Linked DNA regions of Homo sapiens: regions 2 and 3 are each linked to region 1. Evidence: fine-mapped expression QTL. A gene starts in region 1. Each other region holds a variant in brackets. All regions are shown on one strand. Distances are between the middles of the regions.

Region 1 (4,232 bases):
CAGGCGGATGACGAGGTCAGGAGATCCAGACCATCCTGGCTAACACGGTGAAACCCCGTCTCCACTAAAAATACAAAAAACTAGCCGGGTGTGATGGCAGGCGCCTGTTGTCCCAGCTACTCTGGAGGCTGAGGCAGGAGAATTGCTTGAACCCAGGAGGCGGAGCTTGCAGTGAGCCGGATCGCGCCACTGCACTCCAGCCTGGGCAACAAGAGCAAAACTCGGTCTCAAAAAAAAAGAAAAAATGGGGAGCGGAAATAATATGCCATCCAAAATGTACCATCCAAGCAGCGGGAAGTGAGGCTGGAAAGGTAGGAAGTGCCCAGACTGTGCTGGCCATCAAAATAGCACTAGCTACATGTGACAATTAAGTCCTTGGAATTTGGTTAATGTGACTGAATAAGTAAAATTTTAAGGCTGAATGCAGTGGCTCATACCTGTAATCCCAATACTTTGGGAGGTGGGGATGATGTCACTGCACTCCAGCCTGGGTGACAGAATGAGACCCTGTCTCAAAAAAATAAACAAAAGGCTGGGCGCGGTGGCTCACGCCTGTAATCCCAGCACTTTGGGAGGCCGAGGCAGGCGGATCATGAGGTCAGGAGATCGAGACCACCCTGGCTAACATGGTGAAACCCCATCTCTACTAAAAATACCAAAAAAAAAAAAAAAAAAAAAAATTAGCTGGGCTTGGTGGCGGGCGCCTGTAATCCCAGCTATTCGAGAGGCTGAGGCAGGACAATGGCATGAACCCAGGAGGCGGAGCTTGCAGTGAGCTGAGATTGTACCACTGCACACTCCAGCCTAGGCGACAGTGCGAGACTCCATCTAAAATAAATAAATAAATAAATAAATAAATACCAAAAAAAAAATTAGCCTGGCATGGTGGCGGGCGCCTGTAGTCCCAGCTACTTGGGAGGCGGAGGCAGGAGAATGGCGTGAACCCAGGAGTCGGAGGTTGCAGTGAGCCAAGATCATGCCACTGCACTCCAGCCTGGGCGACAGAGCGAGACTCTGTCTCGAAAAAAAAAAAAAGTAAAATTTTTTTAAAGTAAAGCAATAAAAGAATGGCTACTCCATAGATAGAACAGCCAAGAGTAAAATTTTAATTTTAATTAATTCAAATTTTGGCCAGGCGCAGTGGCCCGCACCTGTAATACCAGCACTTTGGGAGGCCGAGTCAAGCAGATCACCTGAGGTCAGGAGTTCGAGACCAGCCTGGCCAACATGGTGAAACGCCATCTCTACTAAAAATACAAAAAATTAGCCGGGCATGGTGGTGGGTGCCTGTAATTCCAGCTACTTGGGAGGTGAACACAGCAGAATCGCTTGAACCCGGGAGGCCGAGATCATGCCACTGCAATCCCAGCCTGGGCAACAGAGTGAGACTCTGTCTTAAAAAAAAAAAAAATTAAATTTTTAAATGGAAGCAGTGCAAATTTAGAAATACTGATTATATCTTGAAATAGTAATGTTTTGGACATATGGAGTTTAAAACATTACTCAAATTAATTTCACTTGGCTTTCTTTTTTACTTTTTAAAAAATGTGGCTACTAGAAAATTCCAAATCACATATGTGGCCTGCTTTATGTTTCTATTGCACAATGCTAAGCCAGATTGTGAAGATTTTAGTTCTAGGACATGGAAGTCTCCCCTCTTTTAATGCAGGGTGGTGTAGTTGGAAGAGAACTGCGCTTGGAGTCAAAGACCCCTGGGTCCTGCCCCTCACTGGATGCCCTGATACACCCACTAGGCAGCCGGTAAACTCCTTGAACGGCCTAAGTTTCTGCACTTATCAGACGGAACCAATAACACACGCTTTTAGGACTCTAGGAGATCTGGAGTTGATTCTCCAGTAGTTCTCTGTCCCTTCCTCACAATGCAACCTTTAAGTAGTCCCTGGGCCTCAGCTTCCCTTGCTTGTAGAAGCCGCCATAACGGCACGGGGAGGGGGCAGGCTGCCAGAGGTGGGTCATGGTGCGTCTGTCCGTCCGTCTTACCTGAAAGCATCGGCGGAATTTGACGAACCCGGGGCCGGTCCCGCCACGGGTCCCTCAGGGGACCCCGCAAAGTTCTGGGTCGGCCCCCGACAGCCGGTGCCCCCAAACTCACAGCAAGGGGTGCCCTTTGCCTTGTGCTGGGGGATGAGGAGGGGAGTTGGGGAGAGGCCCATTTTGCTACTCTGAGTCCAGGCGTTCTCTAGGCAACGCCGGCGCGGTCTCCACTTTCCCGTTTAGCATAACAATGGAACCTTCGTGAGCCGCCGCGTTGTCCGCGAGATGCCGTTTCTATGGTGACAGCCGGGCCGGGGGCCCAGACCAATGTGTCAGTGGAGAGGGTGAATGCAGGTCCTGGTCCTAGAGGCATGAAAAGGACCCCAGAAGACACTGCCTTTGTATAATCCGTTTGCTATCCCGAGGTGATTCACGGAGTTTCTGGGGATTGGCGCAGGCTGGCGCTGGGAACCCCCGCGCCGGTTACCCCTTTCCTCGGTGGTAGAGGCCGGGCGGGGCAGCGCATGCGCGTGGCGGGCAGGCGGCAGGAGGCGGGTGGGTCAAGGTAACTCTGGGCTACAGAGTCCTTGCTGGGGGTTCGGGGAGCGCTTGGACCCCGGCTTCTGGGACGCGTCAGGTACGTCTCCGAGTCCGGCGTCGCCGGCCAGCGCTGCCTGGGTTCACTCGGGGGCCCGAGCTGAGTAGGACGTCCGGGCCTCGCCTGGAGAGAGGCTTCAGGAGGGCCTGGGGAAGGGGACGGAGGCCGGGCGACCCCGGGCGGTGGCCGCCCTCCTCTGTGTGTCTCCGCGGTTGTGAATTGGGGCGGTAATTCCTCCCCGTAGGTCGCCGTGAAGATGATTGCATGAGATCGTGCGTGTGAACGTTTGTTGACAGCTGTTACTTGAGTCCGACAGCCCTGGGGGCCGTGCATCTGCGTAACATGGCTACCTCTGAACTCCTTGGGGGACACGTATATCTTTGAGAATCCGATGAAAACCAGAGATTCCGCCCTTGTTTTCTTAGAATTAAAGTAAGATAATATATTTTATGGCCTGTTGCAAACGGAAAACCTTTACACAATGATTAGTGATTAGTATCAGTATCTGTGGACTGGGAAGGCTCTACTTACTCGATCCTCTTCCCAGGGTCGTTGTGAGGATCAAGTGCACAGCTTCCTATAAACACTAAAACACTATAACATCTTGTGAGCCAGGTACTATTATTATTCCTCAGTGCAAAGAAAGAAGCCGAAGTCCAAGGGGGATAAATGCTGGGGTCCCACTGTGGGTGAGCCGCAGAGTGATCATTGGAAGCCAGGTGCTCCCCCTTCACTTCCTGTGTGCGGAGCACGCTCGCCCTGGGAGTTTCACTAGAAAGAAGGTTGCCATGGGCCAGTGGGACAGCTTGTATCTCAAGTGCACGCGGATGCCCCAGAATCCCAGGATCTCAGCTGAGCTGTTTGTGGATTATTAGATCTGACTTAAAAGGTAGCTAATCCAGACCCTTCCTCATCTGTAATACATGGATGACAGCTCCCAGCTGTAGTGTTATGAGAATTAGTGCGGTCATGAGTAAGGTGCCCAGTTAAAGCCCGAGAAGTAAAGCAGCTGGGCCAAGGTCTAGCAGGCAACTGAAGGGGAGAGCCAGGCCCCTAAACTTGTTGTGTCCAGCCCATGTGCTCAGGCCCAGTGCAGTTAGCATCAGTGGGGACTTGACTTATTTCTCCTTCTTCAAATGTCTCTAGATTTTAGGCATGCTGGGGGCTGCTTCTTAACTGTGTTTTGTTTATTTTGTTCATAAGTAATACATGAATATATTCTCATTGTAATAATTCATTAAATCTCGAGTATATTTAATATAATTTTATATTGTACCATATGAAATTGTCACAATTTGACCTTTTTTTAACCTATAAAATGACAAGTTCATTCAAGTCAGTCATCCTATTCCCTTTTTCAGGTTTAACCACTATGAACAGTTTGGTGTATCCTTCCAGATCTCTTTCTTTCTTTTCTATTTTTTTTTTCTTTGAGATGGGGTCTTGTTCTGTCACCCAGGCTAGAAAGCAGTGGTGCAATTTCAGCTCACTGCAACCTCTGCCTCCTGGGTTCAAGCAATTATCCTGCCTCAGCCTCCTGAGTATCTGGGACAACTGGCGCACACCACCACACCCGACTAATTTTTGTATTTTTAGTAGAAACAGGGTTTCACCATGTTGGCCAGGATAGTCTCGATCT
Region 2 (4,232 bases), 21 kb after region 1:
CTGCAGAGAAGGAAACTCTGGGAGGTTCAGACACTGATCTAGGATCACACAGTAGAAGTGCTGGAGCTTGATTCACACAGCCCGCTATGAAAGAGAGGAGCTGGGGGCGGCCTCAAAGGGAGCTGCTGTCTGCAGTCCATCCTTACGGCCAGCAAAGCACTCTATGGGGGGGATGGATCGAAGGGCAGATTTGTAGCTCCAACCCATAACCTGACTTTCTGATACAGGAGAGAATGTTTAATACAGAAGAAATTGGAAAAGGATCCACATATATGCAAGGTGTAAATCTTCAGGTGCAGATAATAGGAGCAGTGGAGTTTGCTTATGCCTCGGCCGGTATCACTGGGGACCCTTTATTAATATTCCTGATGCTGGACACCTCCCGATGCTGGACACCTCATTTGCATGACACTCTTTCAAGTTTGTTATCCCCATCACCATGTTTTAGATGAGAAAACCAACCCAGCACAGTGACACAGTGGAAGGGTGGGGCCAGGACTGAAGCCTTGGGCATCATGTGGGCATATTTCGTTGTCACAATGGTGTGGATCCCCCCATGACCAGCACCATTAGGACCTTTGGGGGTTGCAGCCAGGAACCCTAAACATCCTGTGGTAGGAGGGGCAGTTCTGCAGTGAAGAAGGAATTTCTTTTGAGTGAGCGGGGAAGCAAAAGCCATTGTTATGAGCAGATAAATGCTATGATCCAACTGCACTTTTAAAAGGCGCTGGGCGTGGTGGCCCATATCTGTAATCCCAGCACTGTGGGAAGCTGAGGTGGGTAGATTGCTTGAGCTTAACAGTTTGAGACCATCCTGGGCAAAATGGTGAAACTCCATCTCTACCAAAAATACAAAAAGATTAACTGGGTGTGGTGGTGTGCACCTGTGGTCCCAGCTACTCAGGAGGCAGTGGTGGGAGGATTGCTTGAGTCCAAGAAGCAGAGGTTGCAGTGAGGTGAGATCGTGCCATTGCACTCCAGCCTGCTGACAGAGTCAGACCCCGTATCAATCAATCAATCAATAAAAATAAAAGGATCCTTCTGGTGGCTTTGTGGTGAGAACAGACTGAAGGAGGCCAGGCCCATCCCAGGGAGGCCACAGTAGATGAGGTGAGGTGGTCTGATTCTGGATAACACTTGAAGGTAGAGCCTCCCCGTGATGGCTGGGAATCAGGGACAGTCCCATGAATGAAAGTCTTTAGGAGAAAAGGAAAAAAAATCACCCATATATCGCCACACTAACCCTGTTTGCTTCAGCGAGGTGTTTTGTTTTGTTTTTCTTGAGACATTATATATTTTCAAATCTAAATAGAGCCAGATATATCCTTCAGGTTCTGGCTAAAATTCTTCATCCTCAAAGACTTTATTGGCCAGGCACAGTGGCTCACGCCTGTAATCCCAGCATTTCAGGAGGTCAAGGAAGGAGGATTGGGCTGAGCCCAGGAGTTTGAGACCAGCCAGGGCAACATACTGAGACACCATCTCTACAAAAAAAAAATTTAAGTTAGCCAGGCGTGGTGACACACACTTGTAGTCCCAGCTACTTTGGAGGCCGAGGTGAGAGGATCCCTTAACCTGGGAGATCGAGGCTGCAGTAAGCCAAGATTGCACCACTGTATCCTCCAGCCTGTGTGACAGGGCAAGACACCGTCTCTTTAAAAAAAATTTAAAAAGGGCCTGGCGCGGTGCCTCATGCCTCTAATCCCAGCACTTTGGGAGGCCGAGGCGGGCGGATCACCTGAGGTCAGGAGTTTGAGACCAGCCTGGCCGACATGGCAAAAACCTGTCTCTACTAAAAATACAAAAATTAGCCTGGCATAATGGCAGGCACCTAATCTCAGCTATTTGGGAGGCTGAGGCAGGAGAATCATGTGAACCTGGGAGGTGGAGGTTGCAGTGAGCCGAGACTGCACCAGTGCCCTCCAGCCTGGGCAAAGGAGCAAGCCTCCCATCTCAAAAAAAAAAAAAAAAGAAAGAAAAGAAAAGAAGATTCTGTGGACGAGAGGGAGGGCATGAGTGCAGGATTAGAGGCAGTAATGGCAGGAAGACCGAGTTTGAGTCCTAGCAAGGGGAACTGCGCAGACAACAGGACAGGCATGGGCTAATGTGCACTTTCTAATGAGAGGGGCTTATAGTTTTTATAGGATTCTCGAAGGGAGCCATGCCCCCACCCCCCAATTAAGAGCTACTATATCACATGTTTCTAATTCTGACAGGACAGAAACAAGCAAGGTGGAAATCTTGGGCTCGAGAGATGGGGAGTAGAGGAGCTAAGAGCCCAGCGTTCTTGAACCTGCCTCTCCCATCCGATGGCAGTCACCTGGGCTCCTAGCATGGGGCATTGCCACTCACTTGCTGACACCCTTGTCCACTGATGCGACCTCCATCCTGGCACCAGTCTCACCATGTCATCTCTGCTGCTGAGCCTTCCTCTTGAAGACTTCAGCAATTCCTCAGCCCTCTGGTTTCCCTCTCTCCCCAATCTTTAAATGTCTGATTCCACAGGACTCTG[T/C]CTTTTTTTTTTGTTTCTGAGACAGAGTCTGGCTCTGTTGCCAGGCTGGAGTGCAGTGGCGTGATCTCGGCTCACTGCAACCTCCAACTCCCGGGTTTAAGCAATTCTCCTGCCTCAGCCTCCTGAGGAGCTGGGACTACAGGCGCCTGCCACCACATCTGGCTAATTTTTGTGTTTTTAGTAGAGATGGGGTTTCACCATGTTGGCCAGGATGGTATCAATCTCTTGATTTCGTGATCCACCCGCCTCAGCCTCCCAAAGTGCTGGGATTACAGGCGTGAGCCACTGCGCCCGGCCAGGGCTCTGTCTTCTGTTCTCACTCTGCCTTTTCTTTTCTTTTCTTTTTTTTTTTTTTGAGATGGAATCTCACTCTGTCGCCCAGGCTGGAGTGCAGTGGTGCAATCTTGGATCACTGCAAACTCTGCCTTCCGGGTTCAAGCGATTCTCCTGCCTCAGTCTCCCAAGTAGTTGGGATTACAGGTGCTCACCACCACGCCTGGCTAATTTTTGTTTTTAGTATAGATGGGGTTTCACCATGTTGGCCAGGCTGGTCTCGAACTCTGGACCTCAGGTGATCCACCTGCCTCAGCCTCCCAAAGTGCTGGGATTATAGGCATGAATCACTGCCCCCAGCCTCACTCTATCTTTTCTAGATCATCTCATCTCCTCCCAAAGTTCTGAACACTCTGCATTGCATGATTTCCAGTATTTTTTCTTATCCCTTGGAAATTCTATAATCATTGAAAGAGCTCTTTCATCCTTAAACAGGTTTTTTTTTTTTAAATCATGTGTTGCTCTTATGAATATAAGCAAAATTCATTGGTTTTCCTAAAACTTCTCCACATTAGCATTGCGAATTACTTTCCATTTGGAGTCACTAATGTCTGTGCTTTTCAAATAAGATTGGTCCCTCTACGTTCAATAGCATTAGTCTTCTAGCATTTCTTAAATGAACCCATAAAAGAACTAAAAGCTGTTGGCACTGGGCTCTTAAGCTGCCCTCGAAATTATAAAGGGCTAGCCCGCTTTTTTTTTTTTTTTTTTTTTTTTTTGAGACAGAGTCTCACTCTGTCGCTCGGGCTGGAGTGCAGTGGCGCAATCTTGGCTCACTGCAACCTCCGCCTCCCAGGCTCAAGGATTCTCTTGCCTCAGCTTTCCGAGTAGCTGGGAATATAGGCGCCTGCCACCACGCTTAGCTAATTTTTGTATTTTTAGTAGACAGGGGGTTTCACCATGTTAGCCAGGCTGGTCTCGAACTCCCGACCTCAGGTAATCCACCCGCCTCAGTCTCCCCAAGTGCTGCAATTACAGGCATTAGCCACCGCACCCAGCCCCGCTCTTTTTAAAAAAGTAACCTTTTTAACACAGGCAAAAAAGCATAGTTCATAAGTGTACAGCTTGATGAATTACCCAAAATCAACACAGACCTAAGAGAACCATAGCATCCCAGAAGCTACTCTCCTGCCCCTTTCCAAAATTAACCCCTTCAAGGGAATCACTGTCCTGACCTCTCATCATAGATTGGTTTCTGCCTGTTTTTGAACTTTATATAATGGAATCATACAGGAGTACCCTTTTGTCACATGAAAACTGTCTGATAGGCCAGACTCACGCCTGTAATCCCAGCATGTTGGGTGGTCAAGGAGGCTGGATCACTTGAGGTCAGGAGTTCGAGACCAGCCTGGACAACATGGCGAAACCCCATCTCTATTAAAAATAG
Region 3 (4,232 bases), 120 kb before region 1:
CGGTGGCTCATGCCTGTAATCCCAGCACTTTGGGAGGCTGAGGCAGATGGATCACGAGGTCAGGAGATCGAGACCATCCTGGCTAACACGGTGAAACCCCGTCTCTACTAAAACACAAAAACAAAATTAGCCGGGTGTGGTGGCGGGCGCCTATAGTCCCAAGCTACTAGGGAGGCCGAGGTGACAGAATGGCATCAACCTGGGAGGCGGAGCTTGCAGTGAGCCGAGATCGCGCCATTGCACTTCAGCCTGAGTGACAGAGCGAGACTCCATCACAAAAAAAAAAAAAAAAAAAAAGAGTCTTGAAAAGTGAGAGATAGATATCAAACTGCGAAAGATGAAGCAAAATTGTTAAGGGTAAATTTGGAAAATGCTTAAAGAGAGACACATTCATTTCAATGTAATTTACAGAATTTACTCCAGCATATCAAATATCTTTTAATATATCTGTCAATGATACATTTAATCTGCTACCATATGATGCATTGCTTCTGTTTTAAAGTAATAGCACTTTGTATTGCAACCATCAGAGTAATAATTAATTTACTCTAATTAATTTAGGCAAGAATCTTCAATGGATGCTAATATAAATGCATGAAAGCTTATTGCAGAGCAAGATATTTACACAGTCTCAAATTATCACACCACAAATTACTAATTAAATATAAAAGAGAATTTTTGTAATTTTCTTTTACAATGGAGACATCATGTGAATATCATCTTAATCATATGATCAGAATTAACATCACTAATAATGGGACAAACTGCCATCATGTGCCTCCTGATATGATATACTGAGAAGGCCATAATATTGCTTATGTAGTTTTCCTGTCAAAATGCTTAACATTTTAAGTAATGAAGAAAAAATTCAACTTCAAATTGAGGGACATTGCAAAACAGTTGGTCTGTGTTCTACAAAAATGTCGGTGTCATAAAAGTCTAACAAAGGTTGAAGAGCTGTTCTGATTAAAGGAGACTAAAGAGACATGACAATTACACGCAGTGCATGTTCTTCAATTGATCCTGAATTGAATGCAAAACAAAAAAACCCCCAACAACTATAAAGGACATTATTGGGGCAACTGGAGACACTTGAATACAACTGTATATTAGATAACATTATTATGCCAATGTTAGAATTTCTGAATGTGATAATTATATTGTGGCTATGTAGAAGAACATCATTATTCTTAGAAGAGATATGCTGAAGTATTAAGAGGTGAAGTGTCATGATGTCTGTGAATAATTTTCAGTGGTTCAGAAGAAACTTCTCAAATGGTTCACCAAAAAATACATATACAGGCTGGGCGTAGTGGCTCACACCTGTAATCCCAGCACTTTGGGAGGCTGAGGTGGGCGAATCACCTGAGGTCAGGAGTTCGAGACCAGCCTGGCCAACATGAAGAAACCCCGTCTCTACTAAAAATACAAAAATTAGCCGGCCATGGTGGCAGGCGCCTGTAATCCCAGCTACTCGGGAGGCTGAGGCAGGAGAATTGCTTGAACCCAGGAGGCAGAGGTTGCAGTGAGCTGAGATGGTGCTGCTGCACTCCAGCCTGAGTGACAGAGCAAGACTCTGTCTCAAAAAACAAACAAACACGACTGAGTGCGGTGGGTCATGCCTGTAATCCCAGGACTTTGGGAGGCCAAGGTGGGTGGAACACCTGAGGTCGGGAGTTCGAGACCAGCCTGGCCAACGTGGTGAAACCCTGTCTCTACTAAAAATACAAAAAAAATTAGCCAGGGGTGGTTGGCAGGTGCCTGTAATCCTAGCTACTCGGGAGGCTGAGGCAGGAGAATTGCTTGAACCCAGGAGGTGGAGGTTGCAGTGAGCTGAGATCGCACCATTGCACTCCAGCCTGGGAAACAAGAGTGAAACTCCATCTAAAAAAAAAAGAGGCTGGGCACAGTGGCTTATGCCTGTAATCCCAGCACTTTGGGAGGCCGGGGCAGGTGGATCGTGAGGTCAAGAGATAGAAACCATCCTGGCTAACACGGTGAAACCCCGTCTCTACTAAAAATACAAAAAATTAGCCGGGTGTGGTGGTAGGTGCCTGTAATTCCAGCTACTCAGGAGGCTGAGGCAGGAGAATCGCCTGAACCTGGGAGGCGGAGACTGCAGTGAGCTGGGATCGTGCCACTGCACTCTAGCCTGGGTGACAGAGCGAGACTCCGTCTCAAAAAAAAAAAAAGAAAAAGAAAAACAAACAAAAAACCGTATACACATACCACATACATATACATATGAGAATGTGTGTATGTGTGGAGAAACAAAGGTGTATGTACACCT[C/CCACA]CACACACACACACACACACACACACACATACAGGAGAGAGAAAAAATGTGGCAAATTTAACAACTGATGAACCTAGATAAATGAGTATGTCTTGCTCTGTCTCCCAGGCTGAAATGCAGTGGCATGAATTCATTGCACTAGTTTTTTAACTTCTCTCTGGTAAAAATATTTTCTAAATAAAAACCTTTAAAAAAATCTTTTTTTTTTTTGTTTTTGAGACGGAGTCTTGTTCTGTCACCCAGGCTGGAGTGCAGTGGCACGATCTTGGCTCACTTCAACCTCTGCCTCCCAGGTTCAAGTGATCCTCCTGTCTTAGCCTCCCAAGAAGCTAGGACTACAGGTGCACACCACCATGCCTGGCTAGTTTTTTTATTTTTAGTAAAGACAGGGTTTTGCCATGTTGTCCAGGCTGGTCTTGAACTCCTGACCTCAGGTGATCCTCCCACCTCGGCCTCCCAAAGTGCTGAGATTACAGTGAGCCACTGCCCACTGCACCCAGCCTTTAAAAGATTTTTTTAAAAGCTTTTTGGCTAGGCAAGGGGGCTCACACATGTAATCCTAGCACTTTGGGATGCTGAGGTGGGAGGATCGCTTGAGGCCAGGAGTTCGAGACCAGCCTGGCCAACATGGCAAAACCCTGTCTCTTCTAAAAATAAAAAAATTAGCCAGGCGTGGCGATGTGTGCCTCCCAGCTGCTCGGGAGGCTGAGGCTGGAGCATCACCTGAGCCTGAGAGGCAGAGGTTGCAGTGAGCAGAGATGGTGCCACTGCATTGCAGCTTGGGTGACAGAGTGAAACCTTGTCTCTTAAAAAAAAAAAACACACACACACTTTAAAAAAGCATTATCATGAATTTAGATTTGTTTTGCTTTGTTTGAGACAGTCTTGCTCTGTCTCCCAGGCTGGAGTGCAGTGGTGTGTATTTAGGATTATTTTGATTGCTTATTCAGACACATAATGCTCAAAATTTGTTACGGTGGCAACAAACCTTTGTTTGATTTATCTATTTTTATTATCCTACTTTAGCTCTCTGTGTGTTTCTATTCACTGCCGTCTTTCAGAGTCATCAATAGTTATGTGCACAAACACTTCAACAAATTCTGAATATGCCTAGTGTGAACTGAAATTCTTTTTCTTCAAACAGGAGACTTCTCCCATAGTGCCTCTGATAAATATATCTCATGTATATCCTGTAGAAAGATGACTTTTTTGTTTTTATGAATGGTGTTTATTATACTGATAAGCTGCAATATAAGTTTTTATTTCCCTAGGATCTATTTCTTATTGTCCTCCCATACCCCTTTAGCCCTAGACCAAAGAGAAGCCCAAAGTACTGCTGAAAATGGTTAAAGTATTGCTTTATTCTATAAAGAACTAGAGAAAAATAGATTCTGGTTACCAAGTGATATTTACAATTATGAAGTCATATACACTGTGCAATAAAGTGATTTTTTTTTTGAGATGCAGTTTTGCTCTTGTTGCACAAGCTGGAGTGCAATGGCATGATCTTGGCTCACTGCAACCTCCGCCTCCCAGGTTCAAGTGATTCTCCCACCTCAGCCTCCCGAATAGCTGGGATTACAGGTGCACGCCACCACGCCCAGCTAATTTTTTGTATTTTTAGTAGAGACGAGGCTTCATCATGTTGGCCAGGCTGGTCTTGAACTCCTGACCTCAGGTGATCCAACCATCTAGGCCTCCCAAAGTGTTGGGATTACAGGCATGAGCCACTGCGCCCAGTAATAAAGTGATTTGTGATATATTTGTGCCCACATAAAGACTAATGATTTTTAAATTCTTTTCTTTTTTCTTTTTTCTTTTTGAGATAGAATCTTGCTCTGTTTCCCAGACAGGAGTACAATGGCGCGATCTCGGCTTACTACAACCTCCACCTCCCAGGTTCAAGTGATTCTTCTGCCTCAGCCTCCGGAGTAGCTGAGAT

Which allele goes with the higher level. Positions count from the first base shown, and alleles are read on the strand shown. Sizes are in standard deviations (SD) of each study's normalised expression.
In carriers of allele T in region 2, the expression in fibroblasts of the gene that starts at base 2,520 in region 1 tends to be higher than with C alone (moderate effect, 0.60 SD a copy in GTEx).
For the expression in prefrontal cortex of the gene that starts at base 2,520 in region 1, CCACA is the low allele of the variant in region 3 and C is the other (moderate effect, 0.70 SD a copy in ROSMAP).

The links. PIP is the estimated chance that this variant, and not a neighbour inherited with it, causes the effect. A credible set is the group of variants that fine-mapping cannot tell apart.
Region 2: its variant is the best candidate, but not a certain one, in a credible set for the expression of CBY1 in fibroblasts (GTEx, PIP 0.85).
Region 3: its variant is the best candidate, but not a certain one, in a credible set for the expression of CBY1 in prefrontal cortex (ROSMAP, PIP 0.54).

What each region holds. Positions count from the first base shown.
Region 1 is chr22:38,654,119-38,658,350 of GRCh38, forward strand. It overlaps CBY1 (chibby 1, beta catenin antagonist), which reads left to right and starts at 2,520. Exons shown (of 5, transcript NM_015373.4): 1 at 2,520-2,632. FAM227A (family with sequence similarity 227 member A) reads right to left here and starts at 2,274. Exons shown (of 17, transcript NM_001013647.2): 1 at 2,002-2,274.
Region 2 is chr22:38,675,294-38,679,525 of GRCh38, forward strand. TOMM22-DT (TOMM22 divergent transcript) reads right to left here. Exons shown (of 2, transcript XR_007068097.1): 2 at 223-1,196. Among named protein-coding and RNA genes, the nearest start is that of TOMM22-DT, 4.4 kb to the right of the region's middle. The variant T/C (reference allele first, on the strand shown) is at 2,513.
Region 3 is chr22:38,533,120-38,537,351 of GRCh38, forward strand. The region is part of intron 12 of DMC1 (DNA meiotic recombinase 1); the gene reads right to left. Among named protein-coding and RNA genes, the nearest start is that of DDX17, 29 kb to the left of the region's middle. The variant C/CCACA (reference allele first, on the strand shown) is at 2,291.